2 linked regions of the Homo sapiens genome follow. The protein of the gene in region 1 interacts with the protein of each later gene in a biochemical or structural test. Each region holds a gene or a part of one and is shown in the gene's direction. Other genes may lie near its edges.

What was found.
Region 2: the proteins of CDH5 (region 1) and WARS1 form a complex in vitro, tested with the Homo sapiens proteins (one study listed by IntAct).

What each region holds. Positions count from the first base shown.
Region 1 is NC_000016.10:66,390,592-66,394,340, forward strand, and holds part of CDH5 (cadherin-5 preproprotein), read left to right. Parts: intron 1-1,544; coding exon 1,545-1,792; intron 1,793-3,749. UniProt on the Homo sapiens protein: Cadherins are calcium-dependent cell adhesion proteins. They preferentially interact with themselves in a homophilic manner in connecting cells; cadherins may thus contribute to the sorting of heterogeneous cell types.
Region 2 is NC_000014.9:100,333,599-100,337,347, reverse strand, and holds the end of WARS1 (tryptophan--tRNA ligase, cytoplasmic), read left to right. Parts: intron 1-145; coding exon 146-286; intron 287-2,311; coding exon 2,312-2,473; 3' UTR 2,474-3,558; downstream 3,559-3,749. UniProt on the Homo sapiens protein: Catalyzes the attachment of tryptophan to tRNA(Trp) in a two-step reaction: tryptophan is first activated by ATP to form Trp-AMP and then transferred to the acceptor end of the tRNA(Trp).

The sequences.
Region 1 (3,749 bases):
TTTGTAGGCCAATGGCAACAATGTCAAACGTGAGGCTTGGGGCTCTTGGCACCCACAGGTCCTGCTTGGGGATTGCTCCTGGGCCAGAGACCATCAAAGGACCATCAAAGCTCCAAGGTGGTCATGTGTTCATGGAGACTGTGATCCAGTGTCTTAGGCCGAGTTACTTGGGAAGCAAATCTTAAGGCCATGACTGGGTGTAAATTGTTTATCTGGGAGGTGATCCCAGGAAGCCCCAGGAGCAATGACCCACTGCGGGGTAAGTGTGGAACACATCCCAGAGTTGGAGAAGCTGAGGGTGAAGGAGCTGGGGTATTTATACACCCGCTGTCCGTGGTGTTGACTGGGGGCTGCCCCTGGAGTTATTACCTCTCTGGCACTTTCTGGCCTGCCATGTGTCCTGGCCAGTAGAAATCCATCAGCATGAAGAAAACAGTGAGTAATTGTGGTGACATGGATGGCCACTGACACTGGATGCTGCTGACAGCCAGAGAAGCCAGATTAACTGAATCTGGAAGAGGAGGGAGAGGTCCTGTGAGGGGCATAAAAAATGCCTCTGGAATGGCCATGCAGAGGATTGCAAGTCCTGGGCCTGAGTCCTTCTCTGAACCAGCCCCATGCTGGGGCTTGGAAACACCAAGGAGAGGCAGACACAGCCTCCAGTGTCAGCAAAGGTCTCAGCGAATGGGGAAGACATATGCATGAACAAAAAAAGTACAGCCAGGTGTAAGTGATACACAGCAGCTCTGAACAGGGAGCAATTACCTCTGCTAGGAGGGGTTTCTGAGAGAGCATCTGATTACCTTCTGCTTGGCTTCCTGAGGGATGAGTAGGAGTTTTCTAGGCAGGCAAGGGCAGGAGAAGGATCTTGAGCAAAGGCATAAAGAAAAAGCATGTCCGGCCGGGCCCGGTGGTTCACGCCTCTAATCCCAGCACTTTGTGAGGCCGAGGCAGGTGGATCACCTGAGGTCAGGAGTTTGAGACCAGCCTGGCCAATATGGTGAAACCCCGTCTCTACTAAAAATACCAAAATTAGCTGGGCGTGGTGGCAGGTGCCTGTAATCCCAGCTACTTGGAAGGCTGAGGCAGGAGAATCGCTTGAACCTGGGAGGTGGAAGTTGTAGTGAGCGGAGGTCGTGCCATTGCACTCCAATCTGGGTACCAAGAGCAATATTCTGTCTCAAGAACAAAGAAAAAGCCTGTCCTTAAGGACCTGTGGGTAGAACCACTAGTGACGCTCTTAAGAGCAGGACCATAGTTGATCCATTCTATGTCCCAAACGCTGGAAATAGGGCCAGGCACACAGCCAGGGTTGTGGGTGTGGCCATGAGGCTGCTGAGATGAAATGGGGAGCAGCTGAAGACAGACACCAGGCCCAGCCGCTGTCTTGATGACCTCAGAAATATCACTTGTCGAGGCCATGGGCCCCTCATCTATAAAATGGGTGTCATCCTGGTACTACCTTGCATAGTTGCTGTGCAGATCATGTGCCACACACATGCTTGGCCCAGAGCAGGCACTCACCATCCTTTTTCCTTACGCAGCCTCTGGATTATGAATACATCCAGCAATACAGCTTCATCGTCGAGGCCACAGACCCCACCATCGACCTCCGATACATGAGCCCTCCCGCGGGAAACAGAGCCCAGGTCATTATCAACATCACAGATGTGGACGAGCCCCCCATTTTCCAGCAGCCTTTCTACCACTTCCAGCTGAAGGAAAACCAGAAGAAGCCTCTGATTGGCACAGTGCTGGCCATGGACCCTGATGCGGCTAGGCATAGCATTGGGTAAGGGGGCGTGTGTCGATGAGAATGATAAGGACAATCCGGCCTGGATGTTCCTATGCCTGCTGGTCTGAGGCCAGGACTCAGAGAGGGGAACTGGCTTCTCCTAGCACTTACAGGGAAAGTGACAGAGGCAAGACCAGAAGCCCAAGCTCTTGCACTTGGCAGCCTGGCATCTTGACCTGCCTGGACTCCCCCACCTAGCATGGTCCTGGGCATCCAGAGCTACTTGTCCTCTGTCCGGCCTTGAAGGCTTATTCTCTGCACCACAGCTCTCACCAGTCCTATGTGGTAAGATCTGACAGTCAAGAAAGCAACCAATCAGACGACACACCAGAGGCCCCTTCACTAAAACTGTATTCTTGAATCTATCTTCCCCAAACCACAAAAGTAAGAAGTGTTCATTTTATACAGTGAAACAACACAGAGATCTACCAAGAAAACACTGATAACCCCCACTCTCAGATAACTCATGTTCGTGGCCTAACCTGGTCCTATTGCTCCTTTCTTTTCGTGACCACACAAACATGTGGATGCATTTATGGTGGGTTTGTTGTTGTCTGTTTGCTTTTGATGTTTGATTGTTTTAAAATTTTTTTGGATCATGCCATGCTGGTTTCATCGATATTTGCTCTTCTATCTTAACTAAATTTCTCTTTTACAATCTTTAGAAAAAAATGATATAGTTCCAACAGATACTTTTTAGAGCCATATAATATGCAATAGTAAGTATAAATTCAATTCAATCTTATTTTATTGTAGATGCATAGCTGATTTTGCCAGCACCATTTACTAAATATTATAATAATAAGTCATCGTTTTCCCACCTTCATTATATACTAAGTTTTCTGTATATACCTGTATCTACTTCTAATTCTCTGTCCTATCCATCATTCTATAGCAAAGCTATTCTGTTTTATTCTACTAGCTTGTATAAGTCCATTCTCCTATAAAGAAATAGTTAAGACTGGGTAATTTATAAAGAAAAGAGGTTTAACAGGAAGTATAGTGGCTTCTCCTTCTGGGGAGGCCTCAGAAAACTTACAGTCCTGGGGAAGCAGGCACGTCTTACACGGCCAGAACAGGAGTGGGAAGGGAGTTGTTACACACTTTTCAACAACCTGGTCTCATGATAACTCACTAGCTTGAGAACAGAACCTAGGGGATGGAGCTAACCCATTCATGAGAACTCTGTCCCATGGTCTATCCACCTCCCACCAGGGCCCACCTCCAACACTGGGGATTACATTTCAACATGAGATTCGGTGGGGACACAGATCCAAACCATATAGCTTTACACTAGATCTTAGATATACATAAAAGTCCTTCCCATGTTGCTTTTTTATTTGATATAATTTTTTGTCAACTCTCATTTTTTCTTTTGTGAAATTTAAAATTTTGTATCCAGGTTTTTTAAACATTAGAATTCTAGTGTTTATATATTAATTTTGGTATAGCTAATGTTTCAAGGGTATTAAGTCTTCTTATTAAGGACAAAATATGTTCTTCCATTTTGGCCTCATATCCTAAGTTTTGGGACTACTCTTCATTGCCATTCTTTTCTAAATAGCCTGTAATTATAATTTTTGTTTCTCCTTTGATCCAAGGGTTTATTTAAGAGATTGACTTGATTTCTTTATTTTCATTTATAAGTCATAGGGTGTTTTTTTTGTTTTGCTTTAGCTTGTTCTGTGATGTGATACAATTGTATTTGTGTCCACTTCTTCCTAGAATATCTAAGTTTTGACTTTATGTATTTAAATTTTTCTATTCAGTTAACAAAGGTTTGCAACTATTTTACCTTCATTATGGTTTGTAACTTTCATCCAAATGTAATTAGCCAATTTGTTCTGCTTAAATATTTTGCCTTTAATTCTGTTTCCTGATGTTACATTTGTTAGTCCTGTTTTCATGTTATTCATATACGCCTAATGCAAATTTTACAACCTTTACTTTTAAT
Region 2 (3,749 bases), on another chromosome or scaffold:
CCAACCGGCTGTGCGCCTTGGCCTTTCCCGGGTCCAGAATCTGACAGCACTCACACCTCTGACTTCCACACTTGGGCTTCTAGCCAGTGTCCAGGCACAGGATGAGCAGGACTGAGGAGCGTGTCTGTGTCCTCTTCTGGTGCAGGTCAATAAGCATGCGTTTTCTGGAGGGAGAGACACCATCGAGGAGCACAGGCAGTTTGGGGGCAACTGTGATGTGGACGTGTCTTTCATGTACCTGACCTTCTTCCTCGAGGACGACGACAAGCTCGAGCAGATCAGGAAGGTGAGCAGGGAACCCCAAGGGCCCACAGCCGCCTTCTGCCACCCACTCCTGCCCATGGGGCCTGGAAGGCTCCAACAGCCAGGCATGAAGGCTTGGTCGGAGGTGCTCAACTGAAACAAGGTGAAAACTGAGTAGACTCGCCCTCATGGTTTTTAGGCCTGGGCTCAGAAGCCTCATGAACAAATCTCGAAAGAGCAGATACAAATCACTATTCATTTAGGAGCCACCCAAAACAGTCTTGCTTTATTAGTCATCAGAGAAATGTAAGTTAACGTGATCAAAGCTAAGACAGTTGAGTATAGAATTAGTAGGGGCTTTTGTGTTGCCATTGACTATTTTCAGTGATTATGAAGCAGATGCTTCAAGGCACACTCAAGTGAGCAGAGTGTTTATCAGCACAGCCTCAGGAAGCAGTTTGGTACTGGGTACAAAGAGCCCAAAAATGTTCAGAGCTTCTCCTCAGGTTTTCTCATTCTTAGATTTTTTCCAAGGAAATAATCCTGAGTAAGAGAAAGCTTTCCACACAAAGATGTTAAAAATGATAATAGCAAAAAGTTCAACACAGACTCAGTACAACAGAGGAAACGTTAAATTAGAATTGTTACAGGGTGGATTATTATGCGGGCATGAACTATTTTAAGTGTTCATATGCAGGGCATGGTGGCACACATCTGTAGCCCCTGCTACTTGGGAAGCTGAGACAGGAGGATCCCTTGAGCCCAGGAGTTCAAATCCAGCCTGGGCGACATAGCAAGACCCTCATTTCTTTCTTTTTTTTTTTTTTTTGAGACAGAGTCCTGCTCTGTCACCCAGGCTGGAGTGCAGTGGCGCAATCTCGGCTCACTGCAAGCTCTGCCTCCCGGGTTCACACCATTCTCCTGCCTCAGCCTCCCGAGTAGCTGGGACTACAGGCACCCGCCACCATGCCCGGCTAATTTTTTTGTATTTTTAGTAGAGACAGGGTTTTACCGTCTTATTCAAGATGGTCTCGACCTCCCGACCTCGTGATCCACCCGCCTTGGCCTCCCAAAGTGCTTGGATTACAGCTGTGACCACCGCGTCCAGCCAAGACCCTCATTTCTTTTAAAAAAAAAAAAGTTTTAGTGACACAGGAAAATATGCCTATGATAGTGAAAAAAGGATACCAAATGAAAACTCAGGGAGGAGTTAACTATGTTTAAATGAAATGCACAGGGAAAGAAATGTGAAGAAAATCTACCAAATGTTAGCGGGAGACCCACCTCTGGGCATTTTTCAGGTGGGCAATTTGTAGGTGATTTTTCTTTACTTTGCTGCTGCTTTGTGGTTTGGGTACTTTATTAAATTTGCTTAATGAGCATGCAGTACAATCAGAAAAAGAAAAAATTAGCAAGATTTGGCTGGGCGCAGTGGCTCACGCCTGTAATCCTAGCACTTTGGGAGGCCGAGGCAGGTGGGGGGAGTGGATCACGAGGTCAGGAGATCGAGACCAGCCTGGCCAATATGGTGAAATCCCATCTCTACTAAAAATACAAAAATTAGCCAGGCGTGGTGGCAGGCACCTGTAATCCCAGCTACTCAGGAGGCTGAGGCAGGAGAATCACTTGAACCTGGGAGGCGGAGGTTGCAGTGAGCTGAGATCATGCCACTGCACTCCAACCTGGCAACAGAGTGAGACTCCATCTCAAAAAAAAAAAAATTAGCAAGATTTTACAGAAGCCATAAGGCTGCCAGGAATTGTTGTTGTTTAGTGCCTGGGGGAATGGCCCCTAGCATCGGTAGGGGTGGGGACTGCCCTCCCCATTGGCCCTTTCACTGTGAGAGGCCAAGTCATGGCTATCGTCAGAGCCAGGTTTCTAGCCGTTTTAGGAAAAGTGTAGCTGAAGGTATAGGTTATTGTTGTGGTAACAACAGATCTCACTTCTGAGTGCCACCCACGTGCCAGGCTCTGCATGGGTGGTGTGGGCTGAGCTGGTGCCCGAGGCAGGAAGGAGCCACTCAGGACATGTGGAGCCATCTCTCACGTGGCTGTCTCCCTCCGGGCAGGATTACACCAGCGGAGCCATGCTCACCGGTGAGCTCAAGAAGGCACTCATAGAGGTTCTGCAGCCCTTGATCGCAGAGCACCAGGCCCGGCGCAAGGAGGTCACGGATGAGATAGTGAAAGAGTTCATGACTCCCCGGAAGCTGTCCTTCGACTTTCAGTAGCACTCGTTTTACATATGCTTATAAAAGAAGTGATGTATCAGTAATGTATCAATAATCCCAGCCCAGTCAAAGCACCGCCACCTGTAGGCTTCTGTCTCATGGTAATTACTGGGCCTGGCCTCTGTAAGCCTGTGTATGTTATCAATACTGTTTCTTCCTGTGAGTTCCATTATTTCTATCTCTTATGGGCAAAGCATTGTGGGTAATTGGTGCTGGCTAACATTGCATGGTCGGATAGAGAAGTCCAGCTGTGAGTCTCTCCCCAAAGCAGCCCCACAGTGGAGCCTTTGGCTGGAAGTCCATGGGCCACCCTGTTCTTGTCCATGGAGGACTCCGAGGGTTCCAAGTATACTCTTAAGACCCACTCTGTTTAAAAATATATATTCTATGTATGCGTATATGGAATTGAAATGTCATTATTGTAACCTAGAAAGTGCTTTGAAATATTGATGTGGGGAGGTTTATTGAGCACAAGATGTATTTCAGCCCATGCCCCCTCCCAAAAAGAAATTGATAAGTAAAAGCTTCGTTATACATTTGACTAAGAAATCACCCAGCTTTAAAGCTGCTTTTAACAATGAAGATTGAACAGAGTTCAGCAATTTTGATTAAATTAAGACTTGGGGGTGAAACTTTCCAGTTTACTGAACTCCAGACCATGCATGTAGTCCACTCCAGAAATCATGCTCGCTTCCCTTGGCACACCAGTGTTCTCCTGCCAAATGACCCTAGACCCTCTGTCCTGCAGAGTCAGGGTGGCTTTTCCCCTGACTGTGTCCGATGCCAAGGAGTCCTGGCCTCCGCAGATGCTTCATTTTGACCCTTGGCTGCAGTGGAAGTCAGCACAGAGCAGTGCCCTGGCTGTGTCCCTGGACGGGTGGACTTAGCTAGGGAGAAAGTCGAGGCAGCAGCCCTCGAGGCCCTCACAGATGTCTAGGCAGGCCTCATTTCATCACGCAGCATGTGCAGGCCTGGAAGAGCAAAGCCAAATCTCAGGGAAGTCCTTGGTTGATGTATCTGGGTCTCCTCTGGAGCACTCTGCCCTCCTGTCACCCAGTAGAGTAAATAAACTTCCTTGGCTCCTGCTCTTGTCATTGTGCTCTGTCTGGGAGGTCTGAGGAGGGAGCAGAGACCCCTCCCCTCACCCTTCTGTGGATGACCTTGAGTCTGCTGGAGTCAAAATTTGGGGATGAAAGCGCACAGTCCCAGGAACCCCATGGTGTTGTGCCACAGCTCCCAGGAATGGGCTTGTGCTGGGAGAGCCCTTAGCAGCATC